2 separate regions of the Homo sapiens genome follow, and region 2 is linked to region 1. The links come from fine-mapping of genetic effects on gene expression. A gene starts in region 1. The other region holds a variant in brackets. All regions are shown on one strand. Distances are from middle to middle. Region 1 holds the start of KRT72 (keratin 72). Region 2 has its middle 10 kb from the start of KRT2.

Evidence for each region.
Region 2: its variant is fine-mapped to the expression of KRT72 in whole blood (TOPMed, PIP above 0.99).

What each region holds. Positions count from the first base shown.
Region 1 is chr12:52,600,175-52,603,083 of GRCh38, reverse strand. KRT72 (keratin 72) reads left to right here and starts at 1,621. Exons shown (of 9, transcript NM_080747.3): 1 at 1,621-2,057. The coding sequence starts at 1,632.
Region 2 is chr12:52,640,687-52,643,595 of GRCh38, reverse strand. No RefSeq gene overlaps it. Among named protein-coding and RNA genes, the nearest start is that of KRT2, 10 kb to the left of the region's middle. The variant T/C (reference allele first, on the strand shown) is at 1,568.

The DNA.
Region 1 (2,909 bases):
AGGGTCTGCTGTCACCCAGCCACACTGACACTGCCCTTCTCCTCTTCAGAGGGAAGGGACTACAGCCCCTCCTCTGAGGCAGCACTGAGAGCCCACCCTCTCTCCCACCTAGGACACCCAGATGCCGTTATCTGTTCATCTGTGATCGGTGCCATCTCCAGCGCTTAACAATGCCCTCACAACTTTGTTCCCCGTGGAGTAAACGCTTCGGCTGTTATTATGTCCTGTCATTGGCCCAGTGGAGGCTATGTCAGCCAATTACCCCCAGGTACCATTTAACCAACCCATGAGGTCCCCAAGGGGAACCCAGCCTTCAGGGTATCACTGAAGGTGCAGTAACAAGCCTTGCCCTAAGCACTCTGCTGTTTCACAATCATCCTAAATGTCCCTTTGGCCAAGGCCTGGGCTGAGCACTGGGGGAGCAGAGGAGGGAAGGGTGAATCCAGGGGGCCCTGTCAATCTGATAGAGGAAATGGAACACACACCCAGGACTCTGGCAGCTTAAGAAATAAGAGCAATGAAATAATCCCACCTGCATGCCAGAGGAACAGGAGAGCTGTTGCTAAGAGAGGAGGAGACTTGAAGGCAGCTTAAGTTTGAGAAAAGGAAATCGGGTTAGGTGGAAGAAGGAGCCTCTGTAGCTTAAAGGGAATGAAGTTCTAGAATCTAGTTCTTGGTTTTAGATCTGAAGAGTCTTGACCTCTTCCTAATAACTGATCACATTTTGATGCTGAATCAGAAATGACTGGGTGGCAAATGACCTGAGCAGAGGTTTGCTGGATGGGATAAATAAGCCTCTTCTGCTATTAAAAGAAAACAAAAATGAAAACAACCGAAAGCCTTAGGAAACACCATCTGCTAAACCATGCCTGAGTCTTCCTGTACCACCTCCCCAGGCCTTCTTCCCTCCCTCCCAGATAGCATGGTCCCCATTCTTAGTCCAGAAATGCTTAGTGGAGAAATCTTTTCGCTCTGGTCCAAAGTCAACCCTCAACACTTGTGACCAGAGGTCTCTGTGTCCTGCCTTCTCCAACAGACTGAGAGGTCTCTGCAGACGGGGCCAAAATCTCCTCCTTCTGAACTTCCTTCTTGCACAAGGGACAGAGCTGTCCTCATCCAGAAGCCTGGGAGGCAGGAGGAGGACAGGCTAAGGATGATTTTCTGCGATAGTCTTGACTCTATTCATGGCCTTCTGAAGCAGAAGCAGCCTGGACTTCTGCTTCACACACCTCCGTCTCCCCAGACACACACCCAGAGGGTCAGCCCCACTGGAAGTTTCCAGGGGTGATCTTGGGAGTGATAACCCCAGTAATTGGAGGCCAGCAGGTGGAGATAAGGTCGCTAAGCCATGATAATGCAGGAGGTGAGCCAAGTAAATGCTGGGTTCTGGGTCACTTTACAGGGATTCATGGGGAGTTCACGGTGGAACAGACAAAAATCTCGGTGAGTGCATGGTAATTTCCTACATGAAGAACCCAAGAGGCCTCAAGGGATCTAAAAGGTGTTGTCGACATACAAATTAGGCTGACTCCAGCCAGCCAGGCTATTTAAGGGGCGAGCTGGGCCGAGAACGCAGCGGCTGTTTGCGCCCCTTCTGCCTCCCGCGCGGCCAGCACCGGTACTTGCGAGCCATGAGCCGCCAACTGACCCATTTCCCCCGCGGGGAGCGCCTGGGCTTCAGCGGTTGCTCCGCGGTCCTCTCTGGCGGGATCGGCAGCAGCTCCGCCTCATTCCGGGCCCGGGTCAAGGGCTCGGCCTCCTTTGGCAGCAAGAGCCTCTCCTGCCTTGGGGGCAGCCGAAGCCTGGCGCTCAGCGCTGCTGCACGGCGGGGCGGCGGCCGCCTGGGCGGCTTCGTGGGCACCGCCTTCGGCAGCGCCGGGCTGGGGCCCAAGTGTCCCTCCGTGTGCCCACCCGGGGGCATCCCTCAGGTCACCGTCAACAAGAGCCTCCTGGCCCCGCTCAACGTGGAGATGGACCCCGAGATCCAGAGGGTGCGCGCCCAGGAGCGGGAGCAGATCAAGGCGCTAAACAACAAGTTCGCCTCCTTCATCGACAAGGTGAGTCCTCGGGCATTGGCCTGTCCCTGCGTTGGGCGCATGTGCACAGTGGTGCTGGCTCTGCCACTGGCGAGCTGTGTGGGAGCGTGGGCGGGTCATAACCTCTCCGAGCCTCCCTTTTCCATTTGTAAAATGGGCACAATAATGGGTCTTACTCCAGTGGGTTGCGATGAGGCTTAATTGGGATGTTTACGAAGTGCTCAGAACAGTGCCTGGCACATACTTCCAATAAACAGGATGTATTAGCCCATTTTCATGCTGCTGATAAAGACATACCCGAGACTGGGAAAAAAAAAAAGAGGTTTCATTGGACTTACAGTTCTCCATGGCTGGGGAGGTCTCAGAATCATAACGGGAGGCCAAAGTCACGTCTTATATGGCGGCGGCCAGAGAAAAATGAGGCAGAAGCAAAAACGGAAACCCCTGATAAACGCATCAGATCTCGTGATACTTATTCACTATTAGGAGAATAGCAGGAGAAAGACCGGCCCCTATGATTCATTTACCTCCCCCCTGGGTCCCTCCCACAACACGTGGGAATTCTGGGAGACTTAATTCAAGTTGAGATTTGGGTGGGGACACAGCCAAAACGTATCAAGGACCTTCATTTCTTTCTTGCATGAGACAAGACTGTGAGAAGGGAGGGGTCAGGATGTCCAAGGAATGGGCACTTTGAGAGCTCCCAATATCAGAAGAGGAGATGGGACCCACATTCAGGGCAGGGCATTAGGAACAGAGGCCAAGAGACGTTGCAGGACATGGTGCTTGGTGCTTGAGGAGTGGGGTAAGTGTGTAGCCAGGAAGATGATAGAGGAGGTGAGAGAAAAGGGCCAGAAAACTGAAGGGTGAGGC
Region 2 (2,909 bases), 41 kb before region 1:
TTCCCAGAGGTTGCAGGGACGGCTCTAATAGAGAACAGATGCATTCACTTGCCTCCAGACCAGCCAGGACCCAGGTATGAGGGTGCTGCAGGAACAGCTCTGAAGGCTGCAGGTGGCAAGGTGGCAAGACTCCAGGCTGAGCATTCTAAAGTGATCCGCTGATCAGAGAAGGTCCCTGAGAACCACCCAGGCCTCAGTCGTGGGGAGAGGTCTGTGGGGAGAGGGTGCAGGTTGGGAAGAAGTGGTGTGAGGAGCTGGCTGTTTTCGGGTATGTACATAGTGTAGACATGAACACAACCTTTAACAGGGACTTGGTCCCAGACATTTGAGGCTGGACAGGAGCTTTGGTAATCAGTGTATTTGAACTTTTCACTTAGGTGAGGAAAAAGGTAAGGCCCAGGGTGGACACAGAAACCAGGTCTCCCACTCCCAATTTATTCATTTTTTAAAAGGCTTTGGGAATAGCAATCCATTCTAATAACTTTCTGAGGGGAAAAGAGGTGAGGCAGGTAAGGTGGCAGATTTATTCCCAGGGGAGCCTTAATTCTATTTTTTTTTTTTTTGAGATGGAGTCTCACTCTGTTGCCCAGGCTGGAGTGCAGTGGCATGATCTCAGCTCACTGCAAACTCCGCCTCCCGGCTCAAGTGATTCTCATGCCTCAGCCTCCCGAGTAGCTGGGATTACAGACATGCACCACCATGCCTATCTAATTTTTGTATTTTTGGTAGAGACGGCGTTTTACCATGTTGCCCAGGCTGGTCTCGAATTCCTGACCTCAAGTGATCTGCCTGCCTCAGCCTTCCAAAGTGCTGGGATCACAGGCGTGAGCCACTGCACCCGGCCTTAATTCTTGAGACTTTCAGTGGTCTGAACCTCTAGCTCCTTCTATCGTTTCCAGTTCCCCATCCCTTCCCCACCTGAGACACAGCCCTTCTGGTTTCCAGATCATATATATGCTACTTTCTTGCTGGACTCCAGTAGTAAAATTAGCCTTGTACATTAACTCAGAGGGACCCAGGCCTGAGGCGTGACAGAAATCAAGCTCTAAGCAGGTATTGGAGAGAGGGGCTACCTCTGGAGAGGGACCCTCCTTTCCCTCCGAAGTGTAGAGTAGCCCAGAATCTGGGCCACACCCTCCCACCAGGGCCCTCTGCTGCTCCTCCACCAAATTTGGTAATTGACTTGTCAGGTCCTGGGCTTCAAAAAGGAGACAGGCACAGGCAGAAGGGTTTTACGAGCTCGATTTCCATAGGGAACTGGGTTAAACATTTCCGTTCTGATGATGTTGCAGAATATTTGGGACATCCTCCCTCTTGTGGTTCCCTCCCTTTCTCTGCCTGTGAGTTTTAGTATGAATTCAAATAAACCCTTTTTCTCTTCCTCACCAAATTCTTTCTTTCCTGTCATTTGAAAGGAAATTCCTTTGGACATTTCACCTCCTTCAGGACAGCTCACCTCCTCCAGGAAGCCCACCTAAATGGAACACTCCTGCCTCCTTTTCTTGCTGTGAAGTGGGGAAGGAGTGCCCTGGGAGTGAGGAGACTTCAATGCTGATCCTCATCTTTG[T/C]GGGAACTGTTGCGTGACACTGGGCAAGTCCTTTCTCCTCTCTTGGCTCAATTTCTGCCTCACTTTAAGGACTTTCAGTGGCCAAGATTGTTTCTACAGATCCTTCCAGCTCTGATGAAAAGAACCCTGTCTGTGCTACCGGGTCAGCCAGTGCTTACTCCTAAAGCCTTTCAGCCCAACAGGGGATTTGGGACACTGTCAGGATATCCAGAGAGACCCTTTGTGAATAGGTGTGAGCATGTGAAGCTCAAAGTGGTTTTCATTCTAGTTCAGTAAATGCCTGTTGGACAATGACTGTGGGCAAGGTTGTGCATGTGGCTACGTGGGCGTATCAAGACTTATAAGACAGTGCGTCCTGTCAGGGATTTATGGTCTAGTAGGGGAAGAATGAGAAATTTGCAAACAGCTATTAACATAAGGCAGAATGTAGTAGTGTGCATTAATTTCATTAAGCGGCCCTTACTAAAAATACATATTCTTTGTTCCAGCATCCCCTCCTTCTCCCTGAGTTTCCACTACAGAGGAGTCTAGAAATCTGCATTTTTAACAACCTCCTAGGTGATTCTGATGCTGGTGACACAAGGGCCATGGTTTGGAAAGCACTGATGGACATGCTAAGGGAGCGGGCTCTGGGGTGGGCTCAGTTGCTGGCACCTTGGAATTTAGTAGGCACTAAATGAAAAGTTGATGATCAGATAAAAGAATGTGTGACCCTGGGCAAGTTATTTAACAACTCTGAGCCTTTCTTTACTCATTTGTAAACAGGTAGCAACAACAGCTTCCTCAGAGGATTGCTGGAGGTTTACACACTGAAATCAATGATAAATGTTTATTCTGTAGGACCTGTGCCATCATAAGCATGCAGTACTGTAGGTTACATTATTATTATTATTGTAAGTTACAGGCAGTATTTTGGGACCGGAGAAGACCTCATGGATGAGATAACTTTATATCCAGGCACTGGCAGATAGGTGGGATTAATTAAAGAGTAATAACAATTCTGCACGAACTGTTTCAGAAGATGGAAGAAGAAACACCTTCCATCTTGTTTTATAAGGCCAGCATTAATGGAAGAAACTAAAGAACAAATCCCTCATGGATATATATATATATATATATATATATATATATATATATATTCAAAAATTATCAGCAAGATATGAGCAAATTCAATCTAGAAAGATATAAAAAGGATAATACATCATGACCATGTGTTTAAAAATATTGTTTAAAAATAGTGAGGTATATGTTTAAAATGTATCCCAGAAATAAAAAGCTTGCTCAACATTCAAAGAATTAATGTATTCACCATATTGACATAGAAGAAAAAAACATAAGACTG